Linked DNA regions of Homo sapiens: region 2 is linked to region 1. Evidence: fine-mapped expression QTL. A gene starts in region 1. The other region holds a variant in brackets. All regions are shown on one strand. Distances are from middle to middle.

The links. PIP is the estimated chance that this variant, and not a neighbour inherited with it, causes the effect.
Region 2: its variant is fine-mapped to the expression of CDADC1 in adrenal gland (GTEx, PIP above 0.99). The same link has a PIP of 0.9 or more in thyroid.

What each region holds. Positions count from the first base shown.
Region 1 is chr13:49,240,670-49,253,316 of GRCh38, reverse strand. CDADC1 (cytidine and dCMP deaminase domain containing 1) reads right to left here and starts at 5,392. Exons shown (of 10, transcript NM_030911.4): 1 at 5,198-5,392; 2 at 4,352-4,446. The coding sequence starts at 5,279. LOC105370203 (a long non-coding RNA gene) reads left to right here and starts at 5,477. Exons shown (of 2, transcript NR_135318.1): 1 at 5,477-5,682. RefSeq lists enhancers at 5,270-5,499, 4,969-5,531.
Region 2 is chr13:49,286,548-49,299,194 of GRCh38, reverse strand. CDADC1 (cytidine and dCMP deaminase domain containing 1) reads right to left here. Exons shown (of 10, transcript NM_030911.4): 10 at 5,710-7,511. The coding sequence ends at 7,438. Among named protein-coding and RNA genes, the nearest start is that of CDADC1, 45 kb to the right of the region's middle. The variant G/T (reference allele first, on the strand shown) is at 6,069.

The sequences.
Region 1 (12,647 bases):
AGAAACAATTTTTAAAAAGTAATTAGTCTCTAGGAGGTGGAATTATGATAAAATTTTTCTTCTGTCCATTTTAAAAATAACAAACATATATTACTTTGGTAACTCATAAAAATACTTTTAGTAAGACAAATGTTGGTAAAGTATCAAAAGCAGTATTTCCAATACAATTACATGTCTAATTGCATCTTGGTATTTCTGTGATTTACTCTGTACAACAAAAGCAGACTAAAGAATTTAAGTGAAACAATCTTATTACTTTAGCTTAAAGAAGACTTTTTTTCTCTTAATTGGAAAAAGTTTGTACTCAACTCTAAGAATACCATGTGCAAATAATACTGGAAAAAATATACTATAGTAAATGGTAAAGAAATATTAGGCACAAAATTGGGCAACATTTTGAGAAATTTAATATTTCCACAAGTATAAACACAATGGCAGCATATACTACATGCATATGAAATTTAGATGTATTCTTACTGTATAATTTAAAATTAATAACTTATCAACCCTGTAACAGTACCAAAACTGTCAAATACAAAATTGTGTTCCTGCTATGACTGCAACTACCTGCAAAATTATGTGGATATTAACTAGTACAAAAAGGAAATCCAAGAGAAAAAAATAGTTTTTAAAAATGTTGCAGCTATAAATTCAGTTTCAATGATAATGTTTGTACAATAAATAACACTATAAAAGTGGAGTACAATATGCTCCCTTTCATTCTGTATTCTTCCCCCACACTATCATTGGTCTTGCTTTTTTGCAATGGCCATGATATCAGAAGAACTAATGAAATTATATACTTCTGCTTTATTGACATTAAATATACAAGTAATTGACAACCTACAATCATGTTCTAAATACTTGGTAAATCTCCCTTTTCGGAATTTAAAACACATTTTTCTCATATAAACAATGTTAAAAATGATAGTCAAGTTCCCAAGTTAACATGCAAAAGCCTCTTTCACCCAGATCACTGCCAGAGTAATCCTGAGGCTCTCCCTCCCCAAGTGCCTTGGAGTCCCAAGCCCTGTAGGTAAGAACAGAAGTAAAGGCCTACCCAAGACCATGGTGAGAGGGTTGTAGTCCTAGGACACATGGGTATGGGAGCACAGCTGGAAAGACACCAATGCAGTGAATAGGAGCTGGGCATGCTCCAGGACCAGGAGCTAAGAGTGATAACCTTTCATATAGCCAAGTCAATCCTAGTTCCAGGTTGCCTGGCTTTCTGAAGACATGGATGTTCTTTGTTTTGATGCCTTCTGTACTCATTTCTATGTGTTATAACTTTCCATTTAAAAGCCTTAAATAGACATGCGTATGAGTCAGATTTCTAAATAAGATCCCAAATAAAATATCTGAAACAAAAGACTTATTTATTTTCATTTAGAAAACTTCCATGGTGCCCACCAGATGAAGGAATGAGATGCCAGGAAAACTTAAGAGTTGTTGGCTTGGGAGAAAATGAGAGTCATAACCTTGATCTTTTGTTAAACATGATATAAAGTTGTATAAAATTTTGTTGCTAATATAGTTTTGAAATTTCCTTGGTAGTATTTTTTTTAACAAAATGCTAACTGAAAGCTTCATCTCAGTTTTCTCAGATCCACAGCTTTCTCTATATAGTATGAGGAAACAGTAGGGTGTGTATTATTTGCAAATAAACTTCAACAATTAGTTGGCCAATCAATTCCTTCCTAATAGAAACATAAATGTCATTTCTCACTAATTAAATACAACTTGTGCCTGTTGAAAAAAAAAACTTAATTTCAGCACAGGATGTGGTGTGTATATAAAAAAACAGAACTAAAACGAGATCACATCTGGATATTTACAAAAAAAAGAACGCCTTTTCAAAATTTGTATTCAATCTCTAATATGTCCAGTTTTTATACGTTTTTTTTTCTTTTTTTTTTCTTTTTTTTTCTGTCGCCAGGCTGGAGTGCAGTGGCGTGATCTCAGCTCAATGCAATCTCTGCCTCCTGGGTTCAAGTGTTTCTCCTGCCTCAGCCTCCTAAGTAGCTGGGACTACAGGCACGCACCACCACGCCCAGCTACTTTTTGTATTTTTGGCAGAGACGGGGTTTCACCATGTTGGCCAAGATGGTCTCGATCTCTTGACCTTGTGATCTGCCTGCCTCGGCCTCCCAAAGTGCTGGGATTACAGGCATGAGCCACTGCACCCGGCCTAAAAGTCTTAAACCTCTAAATATTTGTTTCTAATCTGGCTCTTCAAAATAAATTTTATCTGAAAACAAAACAAAACAAAACAAAAAAAACACAACACTACATAAAATCCCTAACAGCTTGGAAATCTACTTTCATAAAATAATACTAAACTATTAACAAGTAGAAGGAATAAAGGAATTTCAAAATTAATGAAGGAAATGAAGAGCTTTCTCAGCCGTTAATAACATGTAGAGCCAGAGTGGGGGGATGAGGGTGAGAAATATGGAATAACGATGTATAATATTTTAAATAATGTTTTACTATCTATAAAACACTTCACATAGGAATTGGGGGAGGAAACTACACCAAGAGATATCATTTTATTATGAGAAGCGAATATCCTCACATCCTGTTAAAATTCCTCAATGCAATTCCTATATTGATAAGATAAAATCTAAACTCCTTTGCAAGGCATACAATGCTTTTTATGATATGATTCCTGTCTACATTGTCAAGCTCCTTTCCAGTCTCTTCCCTCTACCTAACTTCACTTTCTGGCCTGAGGACCACAAATTCTCTCATTGCTCCAAGCTTTTCCATGTAGAGTTCCTTGGCTTGGGCAAAAGTCCACTAATCCTTCATGTCTCAGTGCAAATACGACCTTCTCTGTGAATCCTTCCTTCACTTCCCCATATAGAGCCTGGCTCCCAGTCTTGCCAACATCTCTGCTTATACTATGTACTCACTCCACCAATTCTGTTTTAATTGTTTAAATGCCTAGTGTTTCTACTCATTAGAAAATAAAGACCATGTTTTTTCTGCTTTGTGTCTCCAGTGCCAAGCACAAAACCTCATCCACAGTAAAATGAAAAGAGTAGGTGGTCTCCTAAGAGTACTGTGGGAATTTAAGGATTTATAGTCTTTCTCTGGAAAATCTAAAGCAACCTTTCAGCAGAATTATGGGCAAGTTGGAAACCTCAGCGAGTACATGCAGAATATAACTACAACTTTGTAAGAGTAAAAATAAAAAACCTCATGCTTAAGATTGGAAGCACCAAAATATTAACAGTAATGTTGTTAGAGTGGTGAGAAGCCATGTGTAATTTTCTGCCCCACCCCCCTCATTTTACCTCTGTTTTAAAAAAAGTCTTAAATGCTCAACTTAACCTAATACTATTTTCCAATGGCCGTGGCCCCCTATAAAAATTAATGCCAACACCCTAAGCTTCCAAAATTATCAAACAGAAATGATGAGAACCTAGCATCATGCCATTCCAAGCATGGAGGAAAATGAGAACCTAGCCCCTTGTTGCCCCAAGGGTAGGAGAAAGAAAAGACGCAGGATGTTTATACTTCCAATTCCAATATATTGGCTTTTATGATTATTCTTACTATACATTTCTGATTTTTTTTTTGAGATGGAGTCTTGCTCTGTCACCCAGGCTGGAGTGCAGTGGTGCAATCTCAGCTCACTGTAACCTCCAACGATTCGTTCAAGCGATTCTCATGCCTCAGCCTCCCGCGTAACTGGGACTACAGGCGGATACCACCACTCCTGGCTAATTTTTGTATGTTTAATAGAGATGGGGTTTCACTATGTTGCCCAGGCTGGTTTTGAACTCCTGACCTCAGGTGATCCACCCACCTCAGCCTCACAAAGTGCTAGGATTACAGGCGTGAGCCACTGCACACAGCCCATTTCTAATCTGTTTTGATCCTGTCTTTCAAGATCCAAAAAGAGACTACTTCCATCCAACATTAATCAATTAGCACTCATATAATGCTAGACTCTAAAGGGTATATGCTAGGTAAAATAAGACATGGTCTCTATCTCCAGGCAATTTATATATTTCTGTGGCAGAGGAGTAAACTACCTAGATAAAACACCAACAGTATATATAATTGGGGGAAATTATGTGGTATAGACAATAATCTTATTAGCCGAACTGACATATGAATACCATTAGTACCCGATAAACATGGTATTCTCAGAAAGTATTTTTAGAATGGAAGATGACTTATTACGGCTGGGAATTATAAAGTGTCATGTTAATCAATAAAGATATTTTTTAAATCTTAAGCCTTGTTAAGTTTGGTTTTAGGTATGACAGAAACTGGAGCAATAAACTCAGATTTTAAACCACTGCTTTTCTAAGGGGAAAAACTATGAAACAAATTATACCTGAGATTTTTGCCGCTGGGCTTCTGCTGGAAAGAGCTCCATCCAGAGGCTGAGCAGAGTGAAAAGGTTGACTTTAGAAAGCCTTGGTATCTGACCTACAAAAGAGACGACAAACACTTTAAACTTTGTTACTAATGGTGAAAAAGGGAGCCAATCTCAATGCCACTTAGGTGCTGCAGCCTAAGCCCAGCTGCTTTCGCAAGAGGCACAGAAAAAGATAGGGGACAAGAGAGTCAGAGGTATCTTAGCAGTAGACGCTTCAGCCTTAGTCGTGGCTACCTCCTTCTCCACTTAAAAAGTTGAGCCTTCTTTCTCCAGCCCTCACCCTGCAGGAAAAAACGGTACAGCTAATACACATAGCTGAGGGGGACAACCCAAAGCAAGCTGTGAAAAGTCTTCGCATCTGACGTCGTCGTGGTGCAAGCTTTTCTTTGGACTGTGATGGGGCGTTGCTAAAAGGAAAGCGATTAGAACACAACCCGAAAAATGCGCTGACCTTCGACGGTAAAGCAGTCGAAATACAGGAAAGCGTCACGTGCGGTTAATTTGGAAATCAAGGCAAAAGCGCCGTTTGGAAATGTTCAGGCTCTTTGACCTCAGAGGCCCCAGCTCTAGGTCCTGTGAGAAGTAGCTAACAGGGGTAAAAAGCGAGACTTCAAAAGCCAGTGCGACCGAGCCGATTGGTCCTGGCGACCGCGGAGGGGACACGCAGAGGGCGGGCAGGAGACATCCAAAAGCAGCAGGGGAGGCAAAGAGGCTCAGACAAGGAATCTGGAGTTCAATGACGGGAGACGCACAGGGCAGAGCGAAAGGTAGGGTGGCGGGAGCAGGGTCCCGGACACTCACCGGTCATGCTGCCAGTCTGGGTGCTGACTGACCGCCCGGCCCTCGCGCTCTCCAGATTTTGCATCTGCCCAGCTTCTTTCATCCCAAACCTAGCGTCCTCTGCTGCCAAGGAAACCTCTCCCAGTCAGACATGATCTCGGCCCTAGCGCCCCCGCCTCTCGCCTCCTCTCAGCAACTGTAAGGCAACGGCCCACTAGGCGCAGCCAGATGACGCCTCAAGCTTGACCGCCACTTCAGGGCTCCTCGTGTGACGTCATAGAGAGGCGGGGCTTTGGCGCCAGAGGGCTGCCCCTCGGCCGGTGACCGAGTTAAGCACCGAGCTGTAAATCGCTTGAGACCTGTATTTGGTTGTTTTGTTGGTTTTGCCAAGTAAGGTCACTTGAGGATTTCTTGGCTCGAGGTCCCAGGTTGCGCAGACTCTGACTGCATCGAGTTGAGAATTTTGGTCAGAATGTTAAAGTGGAAACCTACCCCAGGCTGTCATGGTCAGTGTTTTAGAGAACTTCTTGGGTTGGGGTGTGGAGCTGGGCGGTCCAGGATGTTCTGTCATCAGAGACTGGCGGGTTCTGGGGAACTTGGTGCCATGGAACACAGTAGGGACGTTCTGCTTCTCATCAAGAACATGAAGACATTAAGAGGTGGAATTGTAATGGGGAAAAAGGTGAGAGGAGGCAGTAGGAGTTATTTTGTTTTTAATTTCTAATGTCTAGTTTATTTCCACAAAACATCTGTATCATACCAGTTCTTTGAAATTTGTTCAGACTTGTTTTATGACCTAGATCAGCACTGTCCAGTAGGATTTCCTGTAGTATTCTATATCTGCACTGTCCAATATGGTAGCCACCAGCCACATGTGGCTATTGAGCATCTGAAATGTGGCCAGTACAACCAAGGAACTGCATTTTTAACTTCATTTAGTTTTAATTAATTTACATTTTAAGTAGTGACATGTGGCTATTGGCTACTACTGTATTGGACAACATTACTCTAGACTCTCCTCCTGGAATTCCTATTAGGCATAGGTTAAACCTTCTGAGGTTCTAAATTATTATTTTTAAAATATTGCATCATTTTGTTTCTCTGAGCCACATTCTGGCTAATTTCTTCAGATCTATCTTTCAGCTTGCTATTTATTTCTTTGGCTTGTAGAATTTTTTCTAGTTCGCCTGTTCTGAGGGTAAAGCTCTTCAGGTGATTTGACTATATCCAGAGAACTCCATTCTGCACCTTTCCTGAAGTGTAGACTTTGTTGACAGTGCCTTCATGGCAATTAACACTAAGGTTTAAAGACAGGCCATGGACTAGGAGAAAATATTTGCAAAGCATGTATCCAACAAAGGACTCATATCCAGAATATATAAAGAACCATATAAACTCAGAGTAAGTAAACAGTCCAGTTAGAAAATGGATCAAAGACTTGAATAGTCATTTCACCAAAGAAGATATACAGATGGCAAATAAACATGTAAAACAGTGTTCAGTGTCATTGGCCATTAGGGAAATGTATATTAAAACCACAATGAGATTCTACTACACACCTATTTAAATGGCTAAAATAACAAGTACTGACAGCACTAAATGCTAGTGAGGATGCAGAGCAACCGGATCTCTCAAACATTGCTGGTAGGACTATAAAATGGCATAACCACTCTAGAAAACAGTTTGACAGTTTCTTATAAAGTTGCACATATGCTTATCATATCACCCAGCAATCACACTCCTGGGTATTTATCCTAGACAAACCAAAACTTATGTTCAAACAAAACTCTGTACATGAATGTCATGGTGGCTTTATTTTTAATAGTCAAAAACTGAAAACAGGCCAGGCATGGTGGCTCACACCTGTAATCCCAGCACTTTGGGAGGCCAAGGCGGGCGGATCATGAGGTCAGGAGTTTGAGATCAGCCTGGGCAACATGGCGAAACCCCGTCTCTACTAAAAATACAAAAAATTAGCCAGGCGTGGTGGCATGTACCTGTAGTCCCACCTACTCAGGAGGCTTAGGCAGGAGAATCACTTGAACCCGGGAGGCAGAGGTTGCAGTGAGCCAAGATTGCACCACTGCACTCCAGCCTGGGCGACAGAGTGAGACTCCATCTCAAAAACAAAAAAACAAAAAAACTGTAAACAAGCCAAACAGTCCTTAGTGAATGAATAGAAAGCAAACTGGAGTATATCCATGCCATGGGACACTACTCAGCCATAAAAAGTAATGAGCTATTGATACGTACAACTTGAATGAATCTCAAGGGCATTGTGGTGAGTTTTTAAAAGCCAGTCTTAAAGTGTTGTATACTGTATGATTCCATCTAGATACCATTCTCATAGCCAAAGAAAAATTATAGCATTGAAGAACAAATCCATGATTGCCAAATGTTATGGTTGGGACAAGGGTCTGACTGTTAAGAGGTAACACGACAGAGTTTCTTTGTGTTGACAGTTACTCATATCTATACATGTGATAAAATTCATAGAGCTATACACCAAAAATGCAAAGTGGTACATTCAAAACTAGTAAAACACAAATAAGATCTATACCTGTATTAACAGTATTTTACCAGTATCAGTTTCCTGCTTTTACCAAAGTGCTGTGAATAGGTAAGACATTATTATTGCAGAAGCTGGGTGAAGGGTAACACAGGAACTCTGTATTATTTTTGCAACTTTCTTTAAGTCTTAAACTCTCAAAATAACTATATGTATATATATATACATACACACCTATATATGTTATATGTGTGTTTGTGTGTGTATCTTTAATCCCCAGCAGTCTAGATCTGCCCTGCCCTTCAAACAATCATTAGCTTTATTGCTCATTAACCTCTCTTTGGACTCCTGGTCTCATTCCATTTTCAGTCCTTTAGTATTTCAGAGCAGTTTAAATACTTGGACTATTTCTCTTACTTTCTTGCTAGCTCAGCCATATTTTATCCTGCATTTTTAGGTATTTGTAGCTGAAATATTTTTCAGACTAGGCTAACTTTTCCACAGTATTGGTGGAATAATTGTTCTGCTGCAGAGGAATAAGAGGACTAAAAAGGATTATAAAATGAAATTTTCCCTAAGTGCTGAGAAGTGGACAAGCTCAGAGCAGCTGAGTTCTACAAAGGCCAGTTTAATCAATAAAATGGTTTTTAAATCAATAAACAATTCTATATATCAAGTGGAAGGACCATGGGCTTTGATATGAGAGAGACAAGCTGTATTCACACTCTAAGAACAGAAGTTATTTACCAGTTACTGTATCAGTTGGCTTAGACCCGGCTTGCTGTGGGTAACAAATGTGAACCCCCAAAATCTAAGACGGGTCTCAGTTAATTTAGAAAGTTTATTTTGCCAAAGTTAAGGATATGCGCCTGTGACAGCCTCAGGAGGTCTTGACGACATGTGCCCAAGGTGGTCAGAGCACAGCTTGGTTTTGTACATTTTAGGGAGATATGAAACATCCATCAACATATGTAAGATGAACATTGGTTTGGTCTGGAAAGGTGGGACATCTCGAAGTTGGGAGGGGGCTTCCAGGTCTTAGGTAGATAAGAAACAAATGCTAGCATTCTTTTGAGCTTCTGATTACCCTTTCTAAAGGAGGCAATCAGATATACATTTATCTCAGTGAGCAGAGGGATGACTTGAATAGAAGGGAGTCAGGTTTGTCCTAAGCAGTTCCCAGCTTGACTTTTCCCTTTAGCTTAGTGATTTTGGGGCCCCAAGATTCATTTTCCTTTCACACAAATGACCATGAAATCTCAGTGGCTTGCCCCCACAAAGGTTAATTTTTACTCATGTTACATGCTGCTGCTCCTGTGAATTGGCTCTGGGATCCAGGCTAAAGGAGCAGCCTCTGTCCTTTCTTTCTTTTTTCCACCCTCAGTTCCCCTGTATGTGACTCACCTTCCTAGCATGCTAGTTGCTTCTTTGGCTTTCCAGCCCCTTCCTCTTCCTCTGCTGTAATAGCCTCTTCTCCCTTGAAGGGGAGGGGAGGGGAGGTTATCAAATGCCTTTTTGACTGACTTACTCAGGGAAGAAGGAAGGGAGGAAGGAATAGCCCAGGGAAAGAAGGAAGGAAAGGATGATGGTAAAACATTTATCACAAATTTTCATGAAGGGCTACATGATCCCAAGTAGTATGGTGCTTGGCAAAGCACAGGTGCTCAATACTGTTGATTGTCCCTCCCTTTTTCATCTTTCATTTACCTATTCTCTAAGTAGCCTGAATTTTCTTTTATTCTAGGTCCTGTGGATTGGGAATGTTAGTCTTAGCAGTGTGTTTATTAGGACAGAATCCTCTCAACAAAGCAAGCTGATGGTCTGTGGAGTTGATCATAGTCACTGAATCTGTAGCTGGATCTGCTGATGCTGGTGGTGCTTATGGAATACCTGGCTTGTGGAAGAAAATGTACCTTACACTCAATTTTGCTCTTGTGAGAAGGCACTCCATGACCAGTGCCAGAGACACTGGGTTTTAGCAGATAAAGCATTTACCTATAGGGTCACCAAAGGAGGAGATGGGAGGGAATCTTAAATCCATCTGTCTGAGGAGTTTGGGGCTACAGTCTTTAGGGTTTTGGAGTGGGCCCAAGTGTGGAGAGTGTTCACTGGTCGAAGAGCACAGGGTGAAGTCATGGGACAGGGAGATGAAGAAGCTGTGTTCTTATGCTCATCCCGTTCTTCTGTGAGGGTCTCCAAACTGGTCGCTGAAATTTGGATCTGAGAACATCTTAAGCAATCCTTAAACAAAAGCCTTATGATTCCGTCAGAGATCATCTCTATAGGAACAACAGGGATGCAAATCCATTTTTAAACAGTCTTATTGAAGTAGGATATTTCCCTGACCGCTTTGCAGGACTCGCAATAGGGGTGCCCCATTTACTCAGCCCACAGCTCTCAACTCCTTGCGGGAGGGAGCGCATGAGCAAATAAGGCAGGAACTGGAGTACACAACCACTGGAATCAGCTGGCCACTTCGTCACCAGCAGGAGTGAACTCCACTCATTCGGACTCACTGCTCTCCACCCCTTATGGGAGGGAGCACACAGGTGAGCAGGTGCAGGAGCCAGGTGAGCACTTTTGAGCACCAGCAGGAGCAAACTCCATGCATGCCCCCAAGGCAGTATCTGGTGGGGTTCCTGCAACCCCTGAAGCCCCAGAGGGAGTGTTACAGTGGTCTTTTAGCTCTGCCATTTGCAGACAGCTTAAGTGTTAGCAGCTCTGCAGAGCCTCCCTCTGCCTTTTCATGTGAGGGAGCTGTCTTCCACCAGTGAGGGCAAAGGGCCAGTGTGACAGCCTTTTGCATCTGCACTTGTGGCTCCTAGGCTCTTGTTTGGCATCCAGGAGAAATGAGTTTGGACGAAGGAATTGAAAGATGGTAAAAACAGGATTTTATCGCTGATAAAAGTGGCCCTCAGCAGGAAGGGGAGCTGAAAAGGGGATGGGGTGGGAAGGTAATCTTCCCCTGAAGTCCGGCTGTCTCTGGCCAGATTCTTCTCTGAAGTTATGCTGTCAAGCTGTCTCTCTGAAGTCAAGCCACTTCTCTCAGACGTTGAGCCATAGTCTCTGATGTCCAGCTGCTTCTCCTTTTTGCCGGCTGAGTCTGGGGTTTTTATAAGCACAGGATAGGGGGCAGGGCGGGCCATGGGTGGTTTTGGAAAAGGCAACATTTGAGCGGGAGAACAGGGATGTAAGTTCTCACTTTGGGCTGCAGTCTCAGGCTTTTTGGCTTGAGGATGGGACTTTGCCAGGGACCTGCCCCTGTCTGCCTAGAATTTCTCTGCCTCCTGTCTCCATCATTATAATCTTAATGTCAGAAATCCTATCTTTAGGAACAATGGGGATGCAAATGGTCAGGATCTAGTGACTTTTGGCAACAAGGAAGTGTGCTGAATTGTGGCCTGATTAGTTCTTTTTTTTTTTTTTTTTAAGACAGAGTCTCATTCTGTTGCCCAGGTAGGCTGGAGTGTAGTGGCACAATACTGGCTCAATGCAACCTCTGCCTCCTAGGTTCAAGTGATTCTCATGCCTCTGCCTCCTGAATAGCAAGGATTACAGACACATGCCACCAAGCCTGGCTAATTTTTGTATTTTTAGTAGAGACCAGGTTTTACCGTGTTGGCCAGGCTGGTCTCGAACTCCTGAACTCAAGCGATCCACCCACCTTGGCCTCCCAAAGTGCTGGGATTAGACGTGTGAGCTACCGTGCCTGTCTGATTAGTTCTTTTTTTTTTTGTAGATACGGAGTCTTGCTCTGTCGCCCCAGGCTGGAGTGCAGTGGCACGATCTCGGCTCACTGCAACCTCTGCCTCCCAGGTTCAAGCATTTCTCCTGCCTCAGCCTCCCGAGTAGCTGGGACTACAGGCACATGCTGCCATGCCCAGCTAATTTCTTTTGTATTTTAGCAGAGATGGGGTTTCACCGTGTTGCCTAGGCTGGTCTCGAACTCCTGAGCTCAGGCACTCTGCCGGCCTTGGCCTCCCAAAGTGCTAGGATTACAGGCGTGAGCCACCGCGCCCGGCTGATTCATTCTTAATTATAACTATATTTCTGTCCAGAACCCAGCATGCCATTCTTGTCAACCCTGTGGGGATGGTTTCAATTTGGTCATTTCGGGCAAAAAATGTGATTATCCCCACCACCCTGAGTCTGGAGATTAAGGTTTGCTAAGCAATTCTTAGAAGGCCATTCCTGGCAGCACTTAAACCCTGAGGAAGCAAAAAGAAACCTGAAACAAAATCCAGATGCCCTTCAGGAATATGTGCTTTGTTATGGAGGGCAGTGCTGCCAAAGAGAAATGACTTCTCAGATTTTCCATATATTGTCCCAAATAATCTTCTCAGAAAAATAAACTTGGTGCCACGTAGATTAATGTGCTGCAGAGTAAGAATGTTCAGGCAGCCCTGGAAATGGTGCTCCCCTGAGGTGGGAAGGACTGGCAAGCCCACTTTCCCTTGTTCTCCCAAACTCTCTACCAAAAGCCTGCCTGAGAGGGGGTGGGCAGAGGGGCCTGGGCAGCACAGTCAATGTCCAAGCTCATTTTGGGTCCCTGTTTGTGTGGCACCTCTGGACTGTCAGGTAGGGCCACCTGGGTTCAGGTATTTCTGAATCAGCATTCCTATAGAAGTTATCTAATTAGACACATTAGAAATCAACAGAAGGAGGGCTGGGTGCAGTGGCTTGTGCCCATAGTCCCATCCCTTTGGGAGGCCAAAGCCAGAGAATCACTTGAGGCCAGGAGTTCAAGACCAGCCTGGGCAACATAGCGAGACTCCATCTCTACAAAACACTTTTTAAAATTAGCCAGTTGTGGTAATGTGCACCTGTAGCCACAGCCACTCCAGAGGCTAAGGTGAGAGGATCGCTTGAGCCCAAGAGTTTGAGGCTGCAGTGAGCTATGATTGCACCACTGTATGCCAGCCTGGGCAACAGAGTGAGACAGCATCTCTAAACAAAAATAAA
Region 2 (12,647 bases), 46 kb before region 1:
TGGTTGGATCGATCAGCTGTGCTCAAGCAAGGGCAGCCCACTATCCCAACATGTGGGGGGCCTTCTGTTGTTGTAGAAATTTCTGAGTGATTGAAATGGCATTTGGTGGATGTGTGCCAGGGCTGCTAAACCTCTGGCAGTGGTCATGCCAGTCGTAATCAATGGCAATGCCAGTGGTGCTCTGTGCATAAACACTGGACTATGTGAATTCAGAGCTCCAATCTTGAGAGTCCAAATAAACGCAAGATTTATTTTCAGCAAGTGTAACCAGCAAGCCCCCACTTTTTTGCCAACGCCTCACTGTGATAATGGAAAAAGTATTTGACTTCAGAAAAGTCTTAGCTATGATTAAACAAGCAAAGTCACAACAGCAAAACAGTGTAATCCATTTAAAAATTAAGGCTATATGCAGAGGGTATTAAAGTCACAAATACACATGACCATTATGTAAATGGCTATGATAAGACTGTCAGAAGCATAAATCATTGATTATTCTCCCAGATATATAACAAGAGCCAACTACTCTGCTTGGAGACATCACAAATAAACAGTACACATTTAATGAACTTGTTTGCTTGCTACTTAGGACCAAAAAAGGGGTCTCTGGAGATCTCTGTTTTCTTCAAAAACACTGGCCAGGCAGTTTGAACAAATACCTTCCTTTTTTACATCAGCATTCACATTTTCTTGATTTGGGGGCTTGGATCATACTAGGAGATTCAGTAAATATTTGCTGTTGTTGCTGCTGCTGTTGTTTTTCTCACTGATGCATTTTTACAAGAAATGCATGTGGCCCTTTTCTCATTGAGGCATTTTTACAAGAAATGGATGTCACCCTGTCCTCCCTCTCACCTTATGCAGAACCTGTGTCATCAAAAGGCAGGGGGAGTGGCTGGCTGCAGAAGGGCTAGAAAGCGGTTCACCCTTCCTGCAGGTGTCTTCTTAAAAGGAATTCTCAGAATTGCCTGCAGGGTCCCTGATGGCATCTGATTCTGGCCCATCCCCAGGGAACAGGGAGGCGGGAAGCACCAAGGTTTATCACTTTGGCATCAACCTCAGCCAAGAAAGGTGAAACCTCCCTGGCCCATATTCATCTTAAAATGTGAGCCTTCCATTCATCAATGAGGGGATGGTCTGGGCATTATTAGACTAGCTATCATGGTGGCTTTCCCTAGCATGTTGAAGATGAATCTTTAAACTTTCAGGAATACCCACGTTTGTGCAGCAAAACAGTTACCCAGAACCTCTCAGACTTGCCAACTAAAATCTGGGTTTGTGGATTTGGACAACTGCAACTTCTTAGGAAACATCATGAGGGCTTCAATTTGAAGGTTCTCAGAACCGTGTGTAGTGACTGTTAGCATTGCCGTAAGTGTGAGGGAGGTGAAAAGTTCCATGAGGAGTAATGGTCTTGGGGACAGAACTCTGCTCAGGGGCCAGGACATGGGGCTCGATTCCCAGTGGCATTCCCTTCAGTGATCTGCTCTGTCCCTGCAGTGAACGTTACTTTTGTGTTCCCCTGTGAACTATACCTCCTGGCTTCATGTCCTGTGCAGGCCCCTCCACATGGACTCTGGGTGTGGCCACGAAACTGGCCTTGGCCAGTGATCCATGAGCCAGCATGATGCAAGGGGGACACACTGGGCCCATCCTTGTGGAGCATTCACTTTCAGAGCCCTTGCCACCTCATAGAGGTCTGGCCACCCTGCTGGAGAGCCCTGGCCAGCTGCCAGCTGTTTCAGCCATCCAAGCTGAGGCACCAGAAACCTGAAAGAAGCCCCTTGGATGGTCCAGCCTCACTGTCCCTGTGCCGGCTGGGCCCCCCTCTCAACTGACCCACCAGTGGCACACAACCGTCCATGACCCCAGCCAGTGCCACAGGGAGTAGAGCTGTTCTGCTGAATCTTGCCCAAATTCCTGGCTCACAGAATCATGCAAAATAAAATAGTGGCATGGGCCACTAAGTTTTAGGGGGTAGTCTGTCATGCAGCAATAGATAGCTATGGAGTGAATGGATAACTGTTGCCCTCTGTGGAATTTGTGCTTTTTCTGCAAAATAAAACACTTTCCACCAATACCGCAACCAGCATAGAAGTTCTTCATCAGATTACACTAAAGCGTGTTCAGCTCAGCAGAAACTGTGTCCTTTCACAAGGCCACCTCCGCATCAGAGAACCAGGAATGGTAAAATTCCTGGTCAACAGAAACACTCATATCTGAGAGTAAAGTACTATATGCAGTTTTTTTTCTATTTGAAACAGTGTCTCACTCTGTCACCCAGGCTGGAGTGCAGTGGTGCAAGCATAGCTCACTGCAGCCTTGAACTCCTAGGCTCAAGTGATTCTCCCGCTTCAGCCTCTCTAGCAGCTTGGGACTACAGGTGTGCACCACCACAACTGGCTAATTTTTTAGTTTCTTTTTGGAGAGACAGGGTCTTGCTATGTTTCCCAGGCTGGTCTTGAACTCCTGGCTTCAAGTGGTCCTCCTGCCTTGGCCTCTCAAACACTATAAAATCTTAATTACATCAATAGAAGGAATTTCTGGTTACTAAAAATAATACATTTAATGCTTGGTACAGTTTCTCTAAATTCCCCTGCTCTTTATTAAAGCTTATCACATCTATACTTATTTACATACATTTTTTTCCACCCTGACAAGTCACAGAATCTTGAGGTTAAGGGTCATGGTCCAATTTTTTTTTTTTTTTTATATAGTCTTGCTCTTTTGCCCAGGCTGAAGTGCAGTGACACGATATTGGCTCACTGCAACCTCCGCCTCCTGGATTCAAGTGATTCTCATGCCTCAGCCTGCTGAGTAGCTGGGATTACAGGCCCACGCCACCATGCCTGGCTAGTTTCTTTCTTTCTTTTTTTTTTTTTTTGTATTTTTAGTAGAGACAGGGTTTTACCATGTTGGCCAGGCTGGTCTCAAACCCCTGACCTCATGATCCACCTGCCTCAGCCTCCCAAAGTGCTGGGATTACTGGTGTGCGCCACCGTGCCCAGCCCTATTTGCATGTTTAATATGATTGTTCTTCCAGAGGTTTCCAAAAGATTCCCTGCTTAAGCGTGTAGGATATCTTTTAAAAAACCCAAACCAGTAGAACTTTCTGGGTCCACTAAGTGCAGCCCATGGTGCCATTATAATAGTACCAGATCTCTGTGAAGTGGAAGAACTGAAAAAACATGTCCCTGTATTTGTTGGGAGGCCAGTTCTTTTCTGTGTACCTTTCATTCATTTTCATGAATACTGATGTATGTCCATCTCCCCAACTAGACGATAAGCTCCACGAGGGCAGGGTTTGTGTCTGGTTTTCCTCACCACTGTAACTGCACTCCTCACAGTGCCTGGCTCATGGTAAGCTAAGCCCTGGCAAATATTTGTTAATGAATTGTACCATGTTCAAAAATAAACAACCTGGAGAACCTCTGCTGGTTATCATCATGGGTGAAACAAAGTTGGTCAGGAGTTACGATCTGCCACACAGAAGCCTCCCGGCTCACGAGCTTCCATTTCTTGCAACTCAACAGCATCATACACCACAGTATTTCAGACTTCTCGCTTAGCTCTTGTTTTTGTTTTTTTCTAACATTGTGAATGTGCGCACACACTACACAAGGTACTTCAAGCTGTTCAAGCCACCCCCAGCCCCTCATGCACATTAGGCAGAGCCAGGCTGTTTCCATTCACTCCACAGGAAGTGAACTCCCCCCAGCCTCCTCCCTCCACCTTTTGTCCTTGGGATACATCCCCGGCCCGGGCCTCTCTGGGTACGGGTGTCAGCACTGGGATGAACTGTGGTTTCTTTCTCGTTCATCCTGGCCTGGACCCCAATTTCTGAGAATCATGGGGTGGTGGGAAGTATTCCAGGAAAGTTCTGGCTCATGTCCTTCTGGAAAGACATGTGCTTTCCCTAACAAATCACTCTGTGCTACACTCACCAAAGGAGCTCCTGTCCCAAGATGGGCTCACTTCTTTCTTTCTCCTTCCCAAGTGTTACGTGGGTTTAGATATAGACATTCAGGGGCGATAAGCTCATTTATGTATCATAGTGTCACTAAAGATAGAGTTCATGTTTATAGAGTGTTGGTACCATTCATTGACCCAGAAATAAAGCTAACTTGGCCAGGCGCGGTGGCTCATGCCTGTAATCACAGCACTTTGGGAGGCAGAGGCAGGAGGATTGCTTGAGGCCAGGAGTTCAAGACCAGCCTGGGCAACATAGCAAGACCCCTGTCTCTACAAAAAATAAATAAAAAATAAACTAGCCAGGCGTGGTGGCACGTGCCTGTAGTCCCAGCTACTTGGGAGGCTGAGGTGGGGAGGACCGCTTGAGCACAGAAAACAGTCAAGGCTGCAGTGAGCTATGAAGGCACCACTGCACTCCAGCCTGGGCAACAGAGTGAGACCCTGTCTTGAAAAAGGAAAGAAAAAGCTTCAGCAGCAATACAATGAAAATACACACACCTGCGTATGTTCTGCATGACTGGGATGAAGGAAGCCAGGCAAATGCTTACACTTAGCTCCCCTCACAGTAGCATATTCTGTGGCCACTTAGGCAGTAAACAAATGGCAGAGCTATTTTTTTTTTTTTTTTTTTTTTTTACAAATTATGAACTTACCATCATCCTCCCATTCTTTGAAATTTAGAAAGACATTGTATTTTTTGTTTAAGTGTAAGTTCTGATTTCTCAGGCTAAGGGATGAAGACTGGGAATTTATAGATCTGGGTCAAAAGTGCCCCACAGAGCTTCTCCAAACCCAGGCGGGCTCCTGGGGTGGCTCAGCAGTCTGTCTCCATCACTTTTTCCCAGAAATTTGTCTCATTCCCACTGTTTACCTGGCAAACCCCTGGATCCCCTCAGGCCCCACCTCATCACCTCTGCCTCTACAGGGTCCTTTCCATGACTCCCCAGAGTGCTGGTAAATCCTCGTGTGCCCCCACTGTTCCTACAGTTACATCCACAATGGCAGTTCTCAGCCTTAAAGGTCACCAGAATCACCCGCAAGGTCGTGAAACCCCAGCTTGCTGGGCCCACCCTGAGAGGTTCTAATTCAGTAAGCCTAGGGAGCACCCTAAGAATATGCACTTCTAACAAATAGTCTGCTGGTCCAGAGACATTTTTTTCTTTTCTTTTCTTTTAGACTAAGTCTCGCTCTGTTGTCCAGGCTGGAGTGCAGTGGCATGATCTCAGCTCACTGCAACCTCTGCCTCCTGGGTTCATGTGATTCTCCTGCTTCAGTCTCCCAAATAGCTGGGATTACAGGCATGCAATACCATGTCTAGCTTTTTTTTTTTTTTTTTTTTTTTGTATTTTTAGTAGAGACGGGGTTTTACCATGTTGACCAGGCTGGTCTTGAACTCCTGACCTCAAGTGATCTACCCCACTCAGCCTCCCAAAGTGCTGGGATTACAGGTGTGAGCCACGGCACCTGGCCTGAGAATCATTTTTCTTAATTACTTGATTCCATGCTTGTATCTTCCACTTGACTGTGAGTGTCTTAAGATCAGGAGGCATTTCTCACACATCTCATCCCCGCAGTCTAGCAGTGTTTAGCAGTCATTCAATCAATAAACAAATATTTATGGAATGCCTACTGTGTGCCAGGTACTGTTCTAGACACTGGGGTTCAGCAGTTAAAAAGTACACACACACACACACACACACCTCCCTGCCCTCATAGACTTCACCTTCTGAGGCTACACAGTAAACCATCAATGATTATTTATTGAAATCTGACCAGTTGTACAGAAGAAAAAAAATGGCATTATCATGCCTCTCTTAATAGTACTGTGGAAATGCCTATTTTTCCCTTTCTAATCACAGTTTTTCCCACTTGTATGCTTCTTCCTCTGATATCCCATCCCAACACCCAACAGGCAAATCCACAGACCTGGCAATATGCCAGGATTTTGGGTCTTACAAAATATTTACTGATTGATTTATAAAATGTTTGGTGTACATGACATGTTAGTTAGAAACAACAAATCCAAGAGCTGAAGCATGAGAGTTAATACAATAAAGCAATTTGGGAGGTAAGCAATCTCAGTGTTTTTATACTGATAA[G/T]AATATCTTAATTCACGGTTTTCAAACTAGCCTTAGTTACCTCTAAGTGTACATCACCTCCTCTCCTGTCCTATCCCATGCCCTCCATCTGTGTAGTGTTTATGGCAGTTCTTGGCTGCCTTGTATGATGACTCTGAACTCCCCATGGTCCTACACAGGCTGCAGTCACAGCCCTGGCATGGAGCCAATGTTTGGATGGTCGTGCGTGTAATTCTGAGAAACTGGTAGGAAGCCCAGTGAGGCCGTGTGATGTGGCGGAAAGGCAGGGAACAAAAGCAGAGGCAAACCTGACCACCGCAGATCCAGGAAGACATTTCTCATGAAGCACCCCAGGCCACCCCTCTCTAACCTAGGAGAGAACAGAAAATGTACCTTCATTTTTGGAATAATTTTCTGAATGTTTCTCAGCAAATAAAAATGTGAGAAATCACAGACAGCAATCTGGAATAGCTGAAATGACCATACTTTCAAGACTTTCAGTATTTATTCTTGAGGTTGGCAAATGTTTTTAAAAGGCTCTTCCTTTTGAAGATCAAAGCCATGAGACAACCTATGTTAATTATACAGAAGGGAAGACTATATGGGGGAGCAGCATTTATTAATGGAATTCTAGGAAAGCTAGTTTCAATATTCCAGACTCAAATATTTCTTCTCTGTTAACATCATAACCAAATTTGAGGTTCACTGTTAGTGATTTCAAGAGTCAGTGATATCAAGCAGCGACACTGTCTCAGAATAACACTCTCTTCCTATTGCTACCCAAAGTCTGTGATAAACAGGACCACAGAATTAACATTTACAAAATATACTTTAAAAATGGAGACAAAGTCCACTAACTTTATTTTTATGAGTCAATTCTAATTAAGTAAATTCTGATTACTAGAAAGCTTTGGGTATAAATGTGATCTTTTGGTTTGCTATACACTGACTCTTAAAAGATGACACTTATTTCCCTGGAGCAGTTTACTAACTGTCACTCTTGTAATTCAAAAGAATTAATATTTCTCAAAAGGTGTGTGATTCCCTGCAGAGGCATGACCTCTTGTGAAGCAGACCCTTTCAAATTGGCTAATATAAAGTCAAGATAAATAGAAATCAGTCCCTGTTGGTGATTACATTGGTTGAAGTTATTGCTCCCTCATTTCGTGTAATAAAATAACACACTACTACATTATGGAAAACCCACACATAAATCTAAAAGACAAATATTCTTATTAACACCATTTGTATCCTAGAAATAAATTAGCTTCCTTAAAAAATCTTTTCAATTATTCACAAAATCCATCCTTATTTTCTGAATGAACAAGGCTGAATTTTAGAAGTGCAATGAAAAGTTCTTGAGGTTCCCCTGCAGTGTAGACAGGCCTTCTTAGTGGATTCCGAGGCGCAGCTTCTTGTCCTGGTGCTGCTCTTCCTTCTGTGGGACAGGTCTCAACACACCATCTAGCATTGAGAATAACGCTAGGTCAGGACAGCTTCATTTCAAACCCATGGGCACTTGTTTCAGCCTTACATGTTGTAAGAGCAAAACAATGCTTAAGTTAAAGGAACTTTCACTTTATTTTATCTTCAAATTCTCAATTGTAGAGAATCCAATCTAGATAACTTACTCTCAGGCAATACAGAATCTGGCTTTTAAAAACTGGATTCACATTGGCCGGGTGCAATGGCTCACGTCTGTAATTTTAACACTTTTGGAGGCTGAGGAGGGAGGATAACTTGATCCCAAGAGTTCAAGACCAGCTTGGGCAGCATAGGGAGACCCCATCTCTACAAAAAAAATTTTTTTTTTTTAAACAGGTGTTGTGGCGCACACCTGTAATCCCAGCTACTCAGGAGCCTGAGGTGGGAGGACTGTTTGAGCCCAGAGAGGCCAAGTCTGCAGTGAGCCATGACTGTGCCACTGCATTCCAGCCTGGGTGACACAGCGAGACCCTGTCTCAAAAAAAAAAAAAACCAAAAACTGAATTCACTCAACAGTGTACGGCAAGTAATTCATAAAACTTTTTGTTTTATGTTTTTGGTGGGGGGACGTCCTATTACTAGACTGGAAGAAATAAAATGTACCTCCTAAGGGAGAAGGGGACTGTGTGTGGGGTAGGGAGAATCTGGGGACTGGAAGGAAGACGGACTTATCTGACTGGGCAGGCTGGGAAAAGAGTATGGCTTCAACCTCTTCCTGGCTTTTGTGTTTAATAGCTTTATTTGTACAATAAATGATACATGTTTAAAGTATGCAATAAACTAAACATAAAGTGTATAGCTTGATGAATTTTTTTAATTTACTTTTTGATTTGTAATATTTGTAGAGATGGGGTTCTCAGTCTGTTACCCAAACTGGTCTTGAACTCTTGGCCTCAAGCAATCCTCCCACCTCAGCCTCCCAAAATGATGGGATCACAGGAAGGAGCCATTTTGCTTAGTCCAGTTTCATGATTTCTGACATAAGTACACATTCATGAAACTATCCCCACAGTCAAGACAATGAACATATCTATCACCTGCAAAAGCTTCTTTCTGCCCCTTTCTTCCCATCTTTTGAGGGATTTCCTGCCCTGAGCCTGTATGTTCTGCCCTGCTGTTTCCTTGTCCTAAGGACACCTGGGCCAGGGCTCAGACTTGCCTTCCAGAGGTAGATCTGGAAAGCCACCCCTCTCTCTTTCTTGTTCTCATCATATCATGTAATATTTGAAACATTCTCTCTCTCTATATATAATGTATTATGTAATATATAATAATACATACATAATACAGATGGGAGTTCTAAAGCCTAACAATAAAATGAACACTCATGAACTTACTGCCCCAAAAGAGTTACAGTTTGTTTAAAACTGAATAAAACTACATTATGTGTGTTGGGGGGAGATGGAAAAAAAACAAAACATACTGCCGAATCCAACAACTAGAACATTATCAATTCCCGTGCGCTCCCTCTCTCGTCCCATCCCCTTTCACCCCACTCAGAGGCAACTCCTATCTTGATTTTTGTGTTTATCAATCGATTGCTTCTTAACAATAACTTTACTGTATATACTATATATTAAAGTATATTTTATTTATTTATTTATATATTTTTTGAGACAGGGTCTGTCTCAGTCTGTTACCCAGGCTGGAGTGCAGTGGTGTGATCTCAGCTCACTGCATCCTCAACCTCCTGGGCTCAGGTGATCCTCCTATGTCAGCCTCTGCGGTAGCTGGGACTACAGGCACAGGCCACCATGCCAAACTAATTTTTTGTATCTTTTGTAGAGATGGAGTTTTGCTGTGATGCCCAGGCTGGTCTTGAACTCCTGGGCTCAAGCAATTGGCCCGCTTCAGTCTCCCAATATGCTGGGATTATAGGTGTGAGCACCATGCCTGGCCTACCACATTTAACCAATATATGGTATGTCTTTTTGAACTTTATACAGAAATGGTATCATAATTCTGTAGTTTGCTTTGTTAAATTCAACATTTATATTTCTAAGATTCATCCATGTTGAAGAATGTAGCTCTAGTTCATTTGTTTTCACTGCTATATGGTAGTCCATTGTGGGAATACACCATAATATTTTTATCTAACCACCCAAAACAAACATTTGTGTTATTTCCAGTTTTTGCTTTTAAAAACAATATAGCAACAAATTCTTTGTCTCTCTGACTCTTATACAATATGCAAGAGTTTCTCTAGGGCATACGCTTATAAAAAATGCTATTTCAGGCCAGGCGTGGTGGCTCATGCCGGTAATCCCAGCACTTTCGGAGGCCAAGGCGGGCAGATCACCTGAGGTCCAGAGTTTGAGACTAGCCTAGCCAACGTGGTGAAACCTCGTCTCTACTAAAAATACAAAATTAGCTGGGCATGGTGGTGCATGCCTGTAATCCCAGATACTTGGGAGGCTAAGGCAGGAGAATCTCTTGAACCTGGGAGGTGGAGGTTGCAGTGAGCCAGGATCACGCCACTGCACTCCAGACTGGGCGACAGAGTGAGACTCCGTCATAAAAAAAAAAAAAAAAAAAAAAAAAAGCAAAAAAAAAGCTACTTCCGTGCAATGTTAATTTGCATTTCTCTGACTACTAATAAGTTTAATCATCTTTTCATGTGTTGATTGGGTGAACTAAGTTCAGTTCACTCACCTTGCAGCAGACCCAGACCTGATCTCAGATCCCAGCTTATATGGACATTTGTCCCCAGGATAGCTCTGGCTATTGTGTTCGCTTACTATTGCTCCTCAGATTCTAGCAAAATGCCTTCTTATCTCTATTTTGTTCTTAGGAGAATATTTCTCTTATTTTCTTGAAAGCTCCATGACTCTTTAAAAAGAATGCTTGTTATGGGTTACCTGGGTTCCATTTGCATGGAGTGGAAGGGCACTTGAGAGTTGTCAGTCACACTGCCTGCCTTCCTTCTCTGTTTGTCCCTGCTACTGGCACTGAGAGAGTATCCAGCAGCAAGTCCCCCTCTGAGTTAGACAGACTGATTTACCCAAAAGTCAAGCCCCAGTCTAACAACAAAGCTGGTGTTGTAACTTTCATCTGTTGATTCTGGTGTCTATTTCTCAACTGAATCAAAAATTGGAAAGGAATTACATACTGTATGATTCCATTTATATGAAATGGCCAGAATAGACTAATCCATAAAAACTGAAAGAGTGGTTGCCTAGGGCTAGGGGGAGTGAAGAATGGGGAGTGACTGCAAATAGGCATGAGACTTCTTTCTCAGATAATGAAAATGTTCTGAAATTATGTTGTAGTGATGCCTGTACAACTTCGTGAATCTACTAAAGAAGCAAATTTATGATAGATGAATTACATATCAGTAAAACTATCATATAATTAAAAAGGAAATGGGGTATTGCTTACTGAGATCAAACACTTGTTCAAAAATGCATAAACATAAACTTAACTGTTCAGTTGAACTGTCACAAAGCAAACATATGTAACCATCATCTGGGTCAATAAATAAAACATTGCCAGCAAACCAGAAGCCTTCCTTTTGTCCCCTCCTTCCAATCTTGGGGCTTTAACCACAGCATGTCTTCCTTTTCCTTAGTAATCTAGGAATAATAAATCCTAGATACAAGCCCTTTGTTGATTATAAGTGGCAAGTATCTTCTCATATTCCATGGCTTGCCTTTGCACTCTTGTAGTGATATCTTTTTTTTTTTTTTTTTTAAGGCAGGGTCTCACTCTGTTGCCAAGGTTGGAGTAGAGTGGTACAAGCATGGATCACTGCAGCCTCAACCTCTTCATGCTTAAGAGATCCTTCCACCTCAGCCTCCTGAGTAGCTGGGACCACAGGCATGTGCCACCACAATTGGCTAATTTTTGTATTTTTTGTAGAGAGAGGGTTTTGCCATGTTGCCTAGCCTGGTTTCAAACTCCTGGGCTCAAGCAATTCACCCACCTCAGCCTTCCAAAGCACTGGGATTACAGGTGTGAGCCACTGCACCTGGCCTAGTAATATATTTTAATGAACAGATATTCTTCATTGTAGCATAGATAAATTAACCTTTTTATGATTCGTGCTTTTTGTATCCTTTCCCTAACATAGGAAATTATTCATTGGCCCCTTCAAACACTGTCATTGAGTGTACATTATTTAATCAGATGTATAGATAGACAGAGAGACAGACCGATAGATAGATAGATAGATAGATAGATAGATAGATAGATAGATACAGCCTTTTTTGCTAATAAATTTTTAAAAAGAAAGATGCAGTGGATATGTACTTTTTTCCAAATTGCAAACAATACATTTTCTATTTGAATCAAATAAAGCTAATTCAGAACACTGAAAATCAATATATTCACAGAAAAATTATTCTAAGACCTTTATACTTCTTGATTTTTCAAGGTTAAAAAATTGTTATTATCAAGAAAACTTACAGAAAACTTCCATTTACTTCAAATCCAAATAATTCGATAATATAGTTACTGTTTTATTTTTATTTTTAGAGACAGAGTTTTGCCCTGTCGCCCAGGCTGGAGTGCAGTGGCGCTATCTCGGCTCACTGCAAACTCCACCTCCTGGATTCAAGTGATTCTCCTGCCTCAAACTCCCAAGTAGCTGGGATTACAGGCATGTGCCATGATACCTGGCTATTTTTTGTATTTTTAGTGGAGACGAGGTTTCACCATGTTGGCCAAGCTGATCTCGAACTCCTGATTTCAAGTGATCCCCCTGCCTTGGCCTCCCAAAGTGCTGGGATTATAGGCGTGAGTGACCACACCTGGCCTATAGTTACTATTTTAGAATAATATTATATAGCACTCATATCTAAAATTATGTGCCTAAAGAATTGTAAGACTTCTCAAAGATTATATTACATTCAAAATATCTGTAGTAGTATACGAATAATAAAGCTTTAAAGACTAGTAATTCATTATGGTAGCTGTGATGATTCTTAGTTAATCAGATTATTCAAGTTACCAGAACATTTCCAATCTGGGCAAATGTGGGTTTACTCTAGAAGAATGTATATATCCTCATCATTTGGTCCCAATCCATCTGTACTAATTATACATATTTTTCCTTTCTCACTCCCCAATAAGCTTTTGTTTTGTTATAGAAGAGCATTGCTGTTTACTGTTTCATAT